Linked DNA regions of Homo sapiens. The protein of the gene in region 1 purifies or fractionates together with the protein of each later gene. This does not show direct contact. Each region holds a gene or a part of one and is shown on either strand. Other genes may lie near its edges.

Region 1 (3,972 bases):
GTGCCTGGAGAGAGCTGAGCAGCAGGCACGAGTGAGATCGAGACCCCGGCAACCACCTTTGGCTCAGCAATTCTCTGAAGAGGACACGTCAGGCTGAACAATCTAAGGTTTCTAGAAGGCAAGCAGGCATTGAGGAAAGATAGCCCGTGTGTGTGTGATGGGATGGTGGTGGTAGGATTCCAAGAGGTAGTGAAACCGGACAGGCTGGAGCTAGCGCCGCCACTCCCACCTGTACGACTGAAGGCCGGAGCTCTCTGACCTGTAACTCAGGGCTGCCATCCTGCAGCCTCAGCTGGGCGCAATAGAGTATATAGCACCGAGTCTGGTACACAGTAGTTCCTTAACCAAAACGTCAGTTCCGTGAGGGTGAAGAATTTATTTTGTTAATGGCTGTATCCTCAGACCTAAAACCATGTCTGACACATAGTAGGGACCCAACGAATATTTGTTGAAAAAACGAACGAACTACTGGTGTTTGTGTATTGTGGTTTTGTTTTGCTTTTTTTTTTCTTCTTCTTTTTAAGTTTGTCTTCAGGGACAAGACACTGTCGAATCCTCATTTGGAAAGATTATAGCTTTTCTCCAAGTGTTCTCCACGGACACCACCACTATCACCAATGGCTTGTTACAAAATGTAGGTTCCTGGGCCCGTTCCAGAACTGCTCAATCAGAATGGGAGCAATTTGGGACTCTGTAATAGCAAAAGCCCCTTCCCCAGTTCTTACGCACGTGAAAGCTGCAGAACTACAGGATTAGAATTGGAGGGCAGGCAGACACTAGCTGTTTCTCTGCAATCTGAACGTTCCGAACGAGGAAACTGAGGCCCAGAGAGGAGAAAGGGATCTGCCCGCGTCTCCCAGGTGGTCCAGGCTGGAGACAAAAAGTTCGGATCTGGGCCCACCCCGGCCGACCCTCCCAGACCTCCAGCATCTGCCGGGCTAGCCAGCCGGGAACGGGGGCCTTCGGGGTGGGCCGCCGGCTCCCGGGCCGCTTTCAACCTGGGGGACGGAGGCGGTGGGAGCGTCGCCATTGGCCAGGGCGCGGCGGACGCCTCCCCATTGGCCGGGCGGACGCCTCCCCATTGGCCGGGCGGAGCCCTCCGCCCCCGGCCGGGGCGGCCTTGCCATTGGCCCCTCCCTCGCCTATAAGGCGGGGGCCGGCGGGGCCGTGGGAGCGCGCGGGAGCGCACGGCGGGGCGCGGCCGACGCTGGGACGCGGCGCACGGAGGGACGCGGCCGGCGCCCATGGCGTTCGCGCTGCTGCGGCCCGTCGGCGCGCACGTGCTGTACCCGGACGTGCGGCTGCTGAGCGAGGACGAGGAGAACCGCAGCGAGAGCGACGCGTCGGACCAGTCGTTCGGCTGCTGCGAGGGCCCGGAGGCGGCGCGGCGCGGCCCGGGCCCCGGGGGCGGGCGGCGGGCGGGCGGCGGCGGCGGCGCGGGCCCCGTGGTGGTGGTGCGACAGCGGCAGGCGGCCAACGCGCGGGAGCGGGACCGCACTCAGAGCGTGAACACGGCCTTCACGGCGCTGCGCACGCTCATCCCCACCGAGCCGGTGGACCGCAAGCTGTCCAAGATCGAGACCGTGCGCCTGGCGTCCAGCTACATCGCGCACCTGGCCAACGTGCTGCTGCTGGGCGACTCGGCCGACGACGGGCAGCCGTGCTTCCGTGCCGCGGGCAGTGCCAAGGGCGCCGTCCCCGCCGCCGCCGACGGCGGCCGCCAGCCGCGCTCCATCTGCACCTTCTGCCTCAGCAACCAGCGCAAGGGGGTGAGTGTGCTGCGTCCCTCGCTGCGGCCGCCAGGTCGGGGTAGGCGGGGGGCAGCGCCTCTGCGGGAACCGGAGAGGTGCAGGGGTCCCCAACGAGGCCAGGGGGAAGCGACGTGGAATTCGTGCTGGGTGCGGCACCCCAAGCCCAGAACCACTGACTTAATGCCCAGGCCCCCAAACAGAAGGATGCGGGAAAACCCAGAGTTCGGGTCTGATTTAACTGCTCAGTGTGGGATATCCCCTCCAACGAAAGGTGTGCTGGAACTTCCTTCCTGCTGGGAAGACGGCATGAGGACTGAGTAACAAAGACCCATCTTTTATGGAGTCTTCCTCTGTGCCGATGCGCTCCACATCCACTTTTTTGCCTTCACAAGAATCCCTTCAGGCAGGTAGTTTTTCTGCCCATTTTATCCTGATGAGGATCTGAGCATCAGAGATGGGATCACCTGCCCACATTTACTCAGCTGGGAAGCCGGGGCGCTGGCCCTGGGCTTGCCCGGTGTGTGTTGCCCCCACCTTGAAATAATTGTCCCCTGTCCTAAGATCTAACCCAAGAGCAGGAGACTGAGAAGAAAGGAGGCCACAAACCGCCAACCGAGAGCCTGAGGTACCCAGCGGATGAGCAGTAGGAGTGAAGAAGGGGCCCTCTGAGAGTCCCCAGCCCCCAAAAGGACGTGGTGTTGGGAGAGGGCACTCTTGGGTCAGCTGGAGGGAGCTGGTGTGCAGCTCCTGCAATGTGTCCTGGGCAAGAAAGTGGATCAGGCTGGTAGGGGTGGGCGGGGGCTGTGTGGCAGCAGAGGTGGCCTCTTGGCTGAAACCTTGCCCAGGCTCCAAGGAACCTGCTTCATCCCCCGACCGTGTGCCTTTCTGGCCTGGGCTTTTCCTACAGTAAAGAAGCCTGTCTAACAACTTGTATTCCAGCAGCTACCATTTACATCCGGGGAAACTGAGGCTGAGAGAGTACTGACTTTTGGTGGCCAAGTGGAAGGGCATGGGGAATTGGAGTTAGGCCCCTGACTCCCTGCTGTTTGGTTCTCACAGCTGCCGTTGGTCCCTTGCTCCACCCTGTTCTGCGGAGGCCTCTGCATCTTGGCCTGAGACCACCCTCTGTCTGGCTCATCAGATATCCAGCCTGGTTGCTCAACACTTGGCTGCCTCAGTTGCCCTGAATCGTCGGTCTTCTTAGCCTCAGGCTTGTGCCCTCTCCAGGGTCCCTGCTGCTCCCAGCTGTGGGCCCCTGTCAGTGCCCCAGGCTGGGCTGAGAAGCCAGGAGTGGGCCTTTAAGGCTTCCTGGGATGGGAGGGCCTGAAGGGGCTCTCAGGGATACTCCCTGACTGCCTTTCACCCATTCATTCCAGTTAGCAACCCTTAGCTACCCAACAGCTGCCTTCTGTTGGCTCTGAGAACCCCAGAGAAGCAGGTTGTAGGTCCCCACCCTTCCACCAGTCAGGACCTGACAGTACAGCCCCAGGGTCAGGGCAGGGAGATGAAGATGAGGATGCTGTGGTCTGATGGTGGGGGAGGGGAAGCACAAAGGGATTCTCAGAGCCCAGAGAAAGCCTCCAACCCAGGGTGAGTGCTGACAGGGTTTCTGTGTCTCATTTCTGAAGGATGCTTTAGAACAGGGGCAGGCCGATGAAGGGGTAGGAAAGGGTGTTCTAGGATTGGGGCATACAGCAAGAGCTCAGGCCTAGAGAAGGAAGAGGGAAGAGGTTAAAAGTGGCAGGAGTGCAGAGGGGGAGCACAATGGCCAATAACAGCAGTGACAGCAGCCTTCATGAGCACTGATCTGTGCTAAGCGCTCTTTATGATTTATCATTAAAATCCTGCAACAGCCAGGAATGAGGCGCTGTGGTTATCCCCACTTGCTTAGAGGTGCTGCCAGTGGCGCAGAGACACACAGTCAGTGATGGAACCAGGATTCAAACTCAGGCCTGCCTGGTTGGGACGTGGGATAGGTTACAGAGGGAAGTCCCTGTAACTGTCATGTGTCCACCCCCATAGCAAGCAGGCTGGGGGACTTCTCTGCAGGTCTCAGGCCTGTCCCACAGCTCACAGGGGCCTCCCCTGGGCCTGGCCGCTTCCCTGGGATCTGTCTATGGGACCAAGAACTCAGCCAAATTTGGCTGTAGAAACCATGCTCTCAACCCCACGGTCTCCTCTGGGAATAGGCGAGAGGGGCAATCCTGGCCAGCTATGGCCC
Region 2 (3,500 bases), on another chromosome or scaffold:
GTGACATATTTTTGAAATGTTTAATGGATTGAATACTCAAAAGCCAAATCTGTCTACTTTCCAAAGTATCACCTTCTTCGAACAACAGAAGAGTCAGAATAGCAGAGTGCTGAAGAATTTAATAAAGCAAAGAAAGTAAATCACTCTTTTTTTTTTTTTTTGAGATGGAGTCTCACTCTGTCACCCCAGCTGGAGTGCAGTGGCGCGATCTCGGCTCACTGCAACCTCCGCCCCTCCAGGTTTAAGCAATTCTCTGCCTCAGCCTCTGGAGTAGCTGGGATTACAGGCGCATGCCACCACGCCCGGCTAATTTTTTTTGTATTTTTAGTAGAGACGGGGTTTCACCATCTTGGCCAGGCTGGTCTTGAACTCCTGACCTCGTGATCCACCCGCCTCGGCTCCCAAAGTGCTGGGATTACAGGCGTAAGCCACCGTGCCCGGCCTAGTAAATCACTCTTTAGCTCTACAGGTGGCTTGTATACTGAGCTTGGGTTAGATTCATGCTGGTAATACTGGCTCCAGGTTTTGGGGTCCAGGATTCTTATATTTTAGGTTCGATTAACCTTCCCCAACTACAAATGTACCATTTTTGAAAGTGATTTCTCAAAAAGCTTTGTGCTTTTTTTTTTTTTTTTTTGAGGCAGGGTCTTGCTCTGTCGCCCAGGCTGGGGTACAGTGTTGTGATCACGGCTCACTACAGCCTCCACATCCCGGGCTCAAAACGATCCTCCTGCCTCAGCCCCCCAAGTAACTGGGATTATAGGCATTTGCCACCGTGCCCAGCTAATTTTTGTATTTTTAGTACAGACACGGTTTCAGCATGTTGGCCAGGCTGGTCTTGACCTCCTGACCTCAAGTGGTCTGCCAGCCTCAGCCTCCCAAAGTGCTGGGATTGGCCGGGCACGGTGGCTCATGCCTGTAATCCCAGCACTTTGGGAGGCCAAGGCAGGTGGATTACCTGAGGTCAGGAGTTTGAGACCAGCTTGACCAACATGGTAAAACCCCGTCTCTACTAAAAATACAAAAATTAGCCGGCTGTGATGGTGCGCACCTGTAATCCCAGCTACTTGGGAAGCTGAGGCAGGAGAACCGCTTGAACCCAGGAGGCGGAGGTTGCGGTGAGCCAAGACCGCACCATTGCACTCTAGCCTGGGCAACAAGAGCGAAGCTCTGTCTCAAAAAAAAAAAAAAGCTGGTATTATTGGGGTTTTTTGTTTATTTGTTTTTGTTTTTTTGAGATGGAGTTGTGCTCTTGTTGCCCAGGCTGGGCAACCTAGGTGGGTGGATCACCTGGTGGCGTAAGCCACCACACCCGGCAAAGCTAGTATTATTGTAACAATGGTTTGTAACTCTACTTTTTGTTTTCCACATGATTTAAGAGACCAATGCATTTAAAATAATTATTAGTTTACGTTTTGGGGGCACAAAATGAATAAAGACATAATTTTGTGATATCAAGAACTAGAAAGACCCGGGCGTGGTAGTTCACACCTGTAATCCCAGCACTTTGGGAGGCCGAGGCTGGTGGATCATCTGATGTCAGGAGTTCGAGACCAGGCTGGCCAACATGATGAGACCCCGCCTCTACTAAAAATACAAAAAATTAGCCAGGCATGGTGGCTGGCGCACCTGTAATCCCAGCTACTTGTGAGGCTGGGGCAGGAGAATCACTTGAACCCAGGAGGCAGAGGCTGCAGTGAGCCAAGATCGTGCCACTGCACTCCAGCCTGGGTGATAGAGTGAAACTCTGTCAATGGAAAAAAAAAAAAAAGAACTAAAATAGTTGAGAACAAGCTTTAAAGGAGCAGAATTTTAGTATGTTATTGAAGTTAAGCTGTATAAATTCAAATTAGGGTGTCATAACTGTAGGATGTTAAACATTGTCAACAAAAAGGGTCAAACTCTAAAATACTTAAAAAGATTTATTCTGAGCCAAATAAGTGACCAATGGCCTGTGACACAGCCCTCAGGAGATCTGCAAACATGTGCCCAAAGTGGTCACCCTATAACTTGGTTTTATACATTTTAGAGAGACATAAGACATCAATCAATACATATAATATGTACATTGGTTCAGACCAGAAACGTGGGACAACTGGAAGTGGGGATTTCCAGGTCACAGGCAGATTCAAAGATTTTGTGATTGGCAATTGGTTGAGTTATAATCCAAAGACCTGGGATCAATAGAAGGGAGTGTCTAGGTTATGATAAGAGATTGTGGAGACCAAGGTTTTATCATGCAGATGAAGCCTCTAGGCAGCAGGCTACAGAGAGAATAGATTGTAAATGTTTCTTACCAGATTTAAAGAGTCTGTTCTATCAGTCTTAAGATCTGTTTTAATGGTAATGCTGGTCAGCAGTGTCTGAATTCCAAAAGGGAGGAGGGAATAATGAGGCATGTCCAAACTTCTCCTTCCCTTCGTGACCTGAACTAGTTTTTTAGGATAACTTTGCAATGCCTTTGCCCGACAGGAGGGGTCCGTTCAGATGGTTGAGGGTTTATAATTTTATTTTATTTTTTTATTTTTTTATTTTTTTTTATTTTTTGAGATGGAGTCTCGCTCTGTCGCCCAGGTTAGAGTGCAGTGGCATGATCTCGGCTCACTGCAACCTCCACCTCCCAGGTTCAAGGAATTCTCCTGCCTCAGCCTCCCAAGTAGCTGGGACTACAGGTGCCTGCCCCCACGCCTGGCTGATTTTTTATTTTTAGTAGAGACGGGGTTTCACTATGTTGGCCAGGCTGGTCTCGAACTCCTGACCTTGTGATCCACCCGCCTCGGCCTCCCAAAGTGCTGGGATTACAGGTGTGAGCCACCGCGCCCGGCCTAGAATTTTATTTTTGATTTACTTTCTCCGCATTCTGGCCTAGATTTGTCAGAGGCAACATCAATGGTCACCAAACTTTTATTTTATCTCACTGTGTTGCTGGGGTGGCACAGCTGCCTTCCCTGGGTCCATCTTGTGCCTTGGTGGGACCCCTATGGTCAAGGGGCTTAGAGCCAAAAGACACATAGCGAATTTGAAAGTTCTAGGCCAGACCAGGCATGGTGGTTCACCCCTGTAATCTCAGCACTTTGGGAGGCCGAGACAGGTTGGTCACCTAAGATCAGCAGTTTGAGACCAGCCTGACCAACATGGTGAAACCCTGTCTCTACTAAAAATACGAATTAGGGCTGGGCACAGTGGCTCATGCCTATAATCCCAGCACTTTGGGAGGCCAAGGTGGGTGGATCATGAGGTAAGGAGTTCGAGACCAGCCTGGCCAATATGATGAAACCCCATCTCTACTAAAAAAATAAAATAAAAATTAGCCAGGCATGGTGGCACGCACCTGTAGTCCCATCTACTCTGGAGGCTGAGGCAGAAGAATCGCTTGAACTTGGGAGGCAGAGGTTGCAGTGAGCCGAGGTCGCACCACTGCACTCCAGCCTGGGCAACAGAGCAAGACTCCATCTCGGAAAAAAAAAAAAAAAAGAAAAAAAAATTAGCCAGGCATGGTG
Region 3 (3,500 bases), on another chromosome or scaffold:
TGTATGGTTTATAAAACCCTTTCATATCCAAGGTTAGCAAGGCACATATTATTATAACCTTTTTGTTAATGATAATATAAAACCTCATTTTCCTATCTCGACTTTATTAGTTAAGTCTAAATAGACTTAACTTTTTCTTGTTGAATACCTCCTTTCTCCCCTCTCCTTGATTAATTTTACTGGCTAAAATAGGAAAAAGTTTTTACCTTTTAACCCACATAGTCATGAAACTGTGGAAACTGTCTAAATTTAATAGTCATTGATAGAGTCTAGCAGACTCTAGATTAGAGCTCAGGCTCTCTCCATACCCCACAAGGCTTTTCTTTTTTTTTTTTTTTCAGCTCCACCTTACAGGAGACTCTCCTGAAGTGAAACCCTGAGCATGCAAATGCTGGTTCTGCCTGGGAATGTAAGATATCTTGCTGCTATCATTTGCTGAAGTATCCCGTAGAAAACATGGAGTTACAGATAGAAAAAGTCAAGTTTAATTTAGGGACTTTACAGGCATTAATAGACAGCAAAAATGAAAAGCTGAAAAAGGGAGTAAGCGTCTATAAAGGAAGTTAATTTCACATGCAGTTCTTTAGAGACATTGCATATGCTAAGTAAGTGGAACAGGCAGCCTGTGGACAGCAGCTCTGGTAACTAGGGCAGGGACCAAGTCAGATGGCCGCTGGTGACCCTGCTCAGTAAGTTCCTAGAAAGACATCACTGGGCTGCTGGTCATTTCAAAGGAAACTTTATTAAGAAAATGATACATTTGGGGTTTTCTGGATGCAGTAGGTTCAAATGTCCTACCTAGCAGAGTGGCGAAGCCCACAGTGTGATTGGGGTGTCTACTTTGTAGAGCACAGTCAACTGAAATATGGGAGCAAAAGAACCTCTCTGTAGTGATCACAGAAGTACACTAGCAGAAGCTTTAATAGTATTTTGTATGCCTCAGGAGTCTCTATTTCATCATCTCAAAAGGCTCCAAAGCAGTGGAGACATTTTTAGGCTCACTGTGGACATGTGAACACGGTAAAGTAAGCGAGTCTCTCGTAAGGGAATGTGAAGGTTAGGTTACACTCTCTCAAGGTGAAATACTGGGATCACTCCCAGAATGCTCCAGAGAAATACAAATAAAGTTTCTGCCTTATTTCCCACTCACTATCCTGTGCTGAGAAGACTTCCTGTAACAGTAATTTTGCCGATCCTTAGCCCAAGGAGTCTAGACTCCATGGTCATCAGAGAGGAAAACTTCCCCCATGAAAAATACAGTTCAACTGAACTTTTCTGAGTCTGCCCCCTCATTCACACTTTGAACTTCTACTTAAGGAAACCTGATGGGAAGTACATCACTCTATTCCCAGCATCCAGTACAGCACCCACCACACAGGAAGCAAACAACACTGGTTTGTTGAACAGAACCCTAAGTACTAATGTAACCAGAGGCCCAGATGCCTTTAATATGCTCCGTTTCCTATTCCCCAACAAAAAGCACATCTTACTTCAGGAAACTGAATCAAGAAATTATACAGGTTCAAAGGAGCCTTAAAGATCATCTGTTCCAATCTCCTGAGTTTACAGATGAAGAAACCAGGGTCCATAAAATGAAGAGATTCCCCTAATGCCAGGACTCAAGTTTCCCAGGTTCAGAGCTAATACCAAACTGAAACACGCTTCAATTGAATTAGTTTTCATTAAGTTACATTAAAATTTTAGAGCTGTGGTTTATCATTATTTTGGAGTCATCTTCCTTTTCTGACACCATATTACTCTCCCTGGTGTTATTTCTTCCTCTAAGTAGTTAACTGTTTATAAATAAACATTAAAGTGCCCTAAGGGGATAGTTACTTTTTACAAATCTTTCTGTGAATCTTTCAAGGCAAAGAATGCTATCATAATATGAAAATGTATCATTCAATTTAACTATTCAAAAATTGGTGCTTTTGCATAGTGAGTTTTTCTTTCAGCAAGATACATTGCTGGAATTGTTTTCTTAAAAACCGGAATCGGTGGTCTTAAATGCAAATAGAAAATATTTCAAAACAAGCATAAATGGAGTAGTATTATCACATACTGAAATTCAGACCTACCACCAAAAAACTGAGCAGGACTAAGTTTGTCAAATTCAGTTGTTGAAAACAAAATATCTTTTAAGGCTTTTGTATCTTTATTGTGGCAAAGGAAAAAAAAAAAGCCCTATCTGGCACAAATTATTTTAAAAAGCCTTGCAGTTTTCCCACTGATTAGGAAATAAATGAATGCTAGAAGCTAGGAATGTTGTAAAATTTTGCAAAGCAAATAATAGAATTGAATTTTGTCTTCTTTTCTTTTTAGCATGCCAAGACAACTGTTGAAGTTTTTTTTAAAAATAATATTGCCCTTTCCACATTGAAGCCAAGCTATTTGTGAAGCCAATATGATACAGTATTTTAGATGCTCTGCACATTGATTTATTCTACTGCTTCTAGATTATTTTAAAGAAAGCACTTAGTTCCCAACCTCAGAGCCTATTTTCTACGACTTACTAACATAATCAATAATTTTTGATATAATCTCCAAAGAGATCATCAAGCCATCAATCTTTGAGACATTTATTTTTCAGAGGCATTCCTGGTGTGCCTCCCCATCCTGCCCTTCTGCTCTGTTAGGATGGATCTTACTGTGGGACTCAGAAGGGCATGCAGATTTTTCTTTCCATGGATGAATAAATACCAGAGACCTTGGGGGCAGGGAACAGCAATCACAGAGACTACCTCTCTGGGACAGCCTTGGCTCTGTAGGGTACCTATGCTTGCTTTGGTAACCTGATAAAGCTGTTTTCTGCCAACATTAATCTGGTCTGCTTAAATTGGTGAGACTTCTGAACACTACCAAAGGTATTTTAAAAATATATTTCATTTTCATTCCCTCTCTTCCTATCTTTTCTATTTTGAGGGGATTTTGTTAGCCAAATCGGGAGGGTACTCAAGAAATTTGCTATGTTAGGCTGTAAAGCAAAGAACAAAGTCAATATAGAGTCCCCTTGACAGGAGTCCTTGAGGAAGGTGACCCGTGTTCAAACTGCAAATGGAAGATCAGTCTCTGCTCTGGTGTATGCAGTGCCAGAGCCAATGCCAACACAAAGGCAGAGCATGCAATGGTTACAGAACATGCACCTTGGCACTTGACTGCCTGCATTTGAATCCTATCTATGCCATTTACTAGCTTTACAACCCCAGGCAAGCTATTGAACCTCTCTGCACCTCAGTTTATTCTTCTATAAAATGAGAACAATAATGCCTACCGAATAGGATTTGAGTTAATAAATGGAAAATACTTAAAACACTTCATGGCACATTGTATATAATTGTTAGCTATTATCATTAATAAAGGCAGATTTTAGAGAAGACAAAATCTGGGAATCACAAGACAGGGAGTAAAATTTACAACCTACTCTACGTTTTATTTTCCAGTAGAAAAAAACACCCATCAAAGGTAAAGGAAAGAATGTCCTTTCTTTACTAAAAGCAAAG
Region 4 (3,500 bases), on another chromosome or scaffold:
AACAAGGTGGCAGGACTCAAGACAGCCCACACGATCCCTGCCCCTGGGAAACAGCCATGTGTAACCCTCCCCTCGAGTGTGGGTGGAATGAGGAAGAGGGAGGTGTGTCTCTCCTGCGATTAGCTCACTCATCCATTGAGTTTGACGTCATCAAAATGCGAGATGATCCTGGATGGGCCCGACCTGATCAGGGAAGCCAGACAGTAAAAGTGTCAGAGGCTCTTTAGGGCCCGACCTGATCAGGGAAGCCAGACAGTAAAAGTGTCAGAGGCTCTTTAGGGCCCGACCTGATCAGGGAAGCCAGACAGTAAAAGTGTCAGAGGCTCTTTAGGGCCCGACCTGATCAGGGAAGCCAGACAGTAAAAGTGTCAGAGGCTTTTTAGGGCAGCGAGAAAACGGGAACTTCATTCCTTGAACCGGGAATAAATTCTGCCTCCAACCAGAATGGGCTTAGAAGAGGGTCCTCCAGCTCCTCATGAGAATGCAGTGCAGCCGGCCCCTGGAATTCAGCCTGCGTCCCAGCCACGCTGCACCTGCACCCCTGACGACGAATGCAGTAAGATGATAAGTGGATGTGCTGGTTTCAGCCCTGAAGTTGGTGGTGATTTGTTGTGCAGCAATAGAAGTACACACAATATGTACCAAGAACCTTGAGAAGAGTCACATTTATTCTTTCTGTTTTGTTTCTGAGATGGTCTCACCCAGGCTGGAGTGCAGTGGCACCATCTTGGCTCATTGCACTCTTGACGTTCTGGGCTCAAACGATTCTCCCACCTCAGCTCCCTGAGTAGCTGGGGCCACAGTGCACGCCACCACCCCCAGCTATTTTTTGTAGTTTTTGTAGAGATGCGGTTTTGTCATGTTGCCCAGGCTGGTCTCGAACTCCAGAGGCCAAGCAATCTGCCTGCTTCAGCCTCCCAAGGTGCTGGGATTACAGGCGTGAGCCACCGCACCTGGCCCAAGATTAATATTTCTTTTTTTTTTTGAGATGGAGTCTTGCTCTGTCGCCACCCAGGCTGGACTGCAATGGTGCATCTCTGCTCACTGCAAGCTCCGCCTCCCGGGTTCATGCCATTCTCCTGTCTCAGCCTCCCGCATAGCTGGGACTACAGGTGCCTGCCACCACGCCTGGCTAATTTTTTGTATTTTTTTTTTTTTTAAGTAGAGATGGGGTTTCACTATGTTAACCAGAATGGTCTTAATTTCCTGACCTCGTGATCCGCCCGCATCGGCCTCCCAAGGTGCTGGGATTACAGGCGTGAGCCACTGCGTCTGGCCTAATATTTCTAAATGAAGAAACTATACTTTGAGGAAGATGAAATAAGTCTTGTTTTAGACTAGAAAATTTCAATAGTGTAAATACGTTAACTTCTGTAAAATCAGTCAACACCAAGTCAAAACACAAAAGATCTTTTGGGAATATGAGCAGATTATTCAAAGGTTCATCTAAAGAATAAAAATGAGGCCAAGTGTAGTGATTCACGCCTGTAATCCCGGCACTTTGGAGGCCGAGGCAGGTGGATCACTTGAGGTCAGGAGTTCAAGACCAGCCTGGCCAACATGATGAAAGCCCATCTCTACTAAAAATACAAAAATTAGCTAGGCGTGGTGATGGGTGCCTGTAGTGCCAGCTACTTGGGGAGGCTGGGGCAGGAGAATCACTTGAACCTGGGAGGTAGAGGTTGTAGTGAGCCAAAATTGTGCCACTGCACTCCAGCCTGGGCGACAAGAGTGAGAATCCATCTCAAAATAAATAAATGAATAAAAATGAAAGCAGTAGGAAACATCTGGAAAACCAGAGGCATGAGGGGGTCGGGCCCTCTGATACTCAAGTAGGTTAGAGTAAAAAAAAGCCAGATATGGTGATGTGGGAATATATGGTCCCATAGGTGGGATCTGTGGTTCCAGCTACTCAGTGAGGTCCGAGGATCACTTGGGCCTGGGAGGTTAGGACTGTAGTTTGCTATGATCACATCCACGAATAGCCACTGCGCTCCTTCCTGGGCTACAGAGTGAGACCCTTCTCTAAAAATGGAAGAAAATGGCCGGCACAGTGGTTCATGGCTGCTGTAATCCCAGCGCTTTGGGAGGGTGAAGTGGGAGAATAACTTGAGCCTGAGAGTTCGAGACCAGCCTGGGCAACATGGCAAAACCGTGTCTCTACAAAAAATTTCAAAATTAGGTGGGTGTGGTGGTGTGTAGGGTCCAGCCCCACAGGGTCGGTGGGTTTTCTCCCCATGTGCGGAGATGAGAGAGCGTAGAAATAAAGACACAAGGCAAAGAGATAAAAGACAGCTGGGCCCGGGGGACCACTACCACCAAGCCGTGGAGACCGGTAGTGGCCCCAAATGCCAGGCTGCACTGATATTTATTGGATACAAGACAAAGGGGCAGGGTTAGGAGTGTGAGCCATCTCCAATGATAGGTGAGGTCATGTGGGTCATGTGTCCACTGGACAGGGGGCCCTTCCCTGCCTGGCAGCCAAGGCAGAGAGAGAGGAGACAGAGAGACAGCTTACGCCGTTATTTCAGCATATCAGAGACTTTTAGTACTTTCACTAATTTGCTACTGCTATCTAAAAGGCAGAGCCAGGTGTACAGGATGGAACATGAAGGTGGACTAGGAGCGTGACCACTGAAGCACAGCATCACAGGGAGACGATTAGGCCTCTGGATAACTGCGGGCAAGCCTGACTGATGTCAGGCCCTCCACAAGAGGTGGAGGAGCAGAGTTTTCTCTAAACTCCCCTGGGGAAAGGGAGACTCCCTTTCCTGGTCTGCTAAGTAGTGGGTGTTTTTCCTTGACACTGACGCTACTGCTAGACCATGGTCTGCTTGGCAACGGGCGTCCTACCAGACGCTGGCGTTACCACTAGACCAAGGAGCCCTCTGGTGGCCCTGTCTGGGCATAACAAAAGGCTCACACTCTTGTCTTCTGGTCACTTCTCACCATGTCCCCCCAGCTCCTGTCTCTGTATGACCTGGTTTTTCCTAGGTTATGATTGTAGAGCGAGGATTATTATAATATTGGAATAAAGAGTAATTGCTACAAATTAATTAATGATATTCATATATAATCATGTCTGTGATCTAGATCTAGTATAACTATTCTTATTTTATATATTTTATTACACTGGAACAGCTCGTGCCCTCGGTCTCTTGCCTCGGCACCTGGGTGACTTGCCGCCCACAGTGGTGCGTGCTGGTGGTCCCAGCTACTTGGAAGGCTGAAGTGGGAGGATCATTTGAGCCCAGGAAGTTGAGGCTTCAGTGAGCCATGATCATGCCACAGCATTTCAGCCTGGGCCACAGACCTTCAAGATCCTGTCTCAAAAAGAAAAAGGGATATCGCTCAGTGCTTAGTGCAGCTGTGGGTCATTCGGCAGCTGACACAGATGAGGCTATGTAACGCAGCACTGCAGGCAGAGGGGGAGGCCAAGGCCTGAATACCCCGTCTGACTAGCCTTAGGCAGGCGACTTGGCCTCTCTGCCTCCCCCATC

What was found. Proteins that work in one complex are often made in the same cells at the same time.
Region 2: the proteins of TCF15 (region 1) and AS3MT purify together in Homo sapiens (affinity purification with mass spectrometry; one large-scale study listed by BioGRID and IntAct). This does not show direct contact.
Region 3: the proteins of TCF15 (region 1) and FAT3 purify together in Homo sapiens (affinity purification with mass spectrometry; one large-scale study listed by BioGRID and IntAct). This does not show direct contact.
Region 4: the proteins of TCF15 (region 1) and SPATA33 purify together in Homo sapiens (affinity purification with mass spectrometry; one large-scale study listed by BioGRID and IntAct). This does not show direct contact.

Annotation. Positions count from the first base shown.
Region 1 is NC_000020.11:607,510-611,481, reverse strand, and holds the start of TCF15 (transcription factor 15), read left to right. Parts: upstream 1-1,172; 5' UTR 1,173-1,244; coding exon 1,245-1,769; intron 1,770-3,972. UniProt on the Homo sapiens protein: Early transcription factor that plays a key role in somitogenesis, paraxial mesoderm development and regulation of stem cell pluripotency. Essential for the mesenchymal to epithelial transition associated with somite formation.
Region 2 is NC_000010.11:102,893,470-102,896,969, reverse strand, and holds part of AS3MT (arsenite methyltransferase), read right to left. Parts: intron 1-3,500. UniProt on the Homo sapiens protein: Catalyzes the transfer of a methyl group from AdoMet to trivalent arsenicals producing methylated and dimethylated arsenicals.
Region 3 is NC_000011.10:92,346,818-92,350,317, reverse strand, and holds part of FAT3 (protocadherin Fat 3 isoform 1 precursor), read right to left. Parts: intron 1-3,500.
Region 4 is NC_000016.10:89,664,336-89,667,835, forward strand, and holds part of SPATA33 (spermatogenesis-associated protein 33), read left to right. Parts: intron 1-3,500. UniProt on the Homo sapiens protein: Plays an important role in sperm motility and male fertility. Required for sperm midpiece flexibility and for the localization of sperm calcineurin to the mitochondria. Promotes mitophagy as well as acts as an autophagy mediator in male germline cells.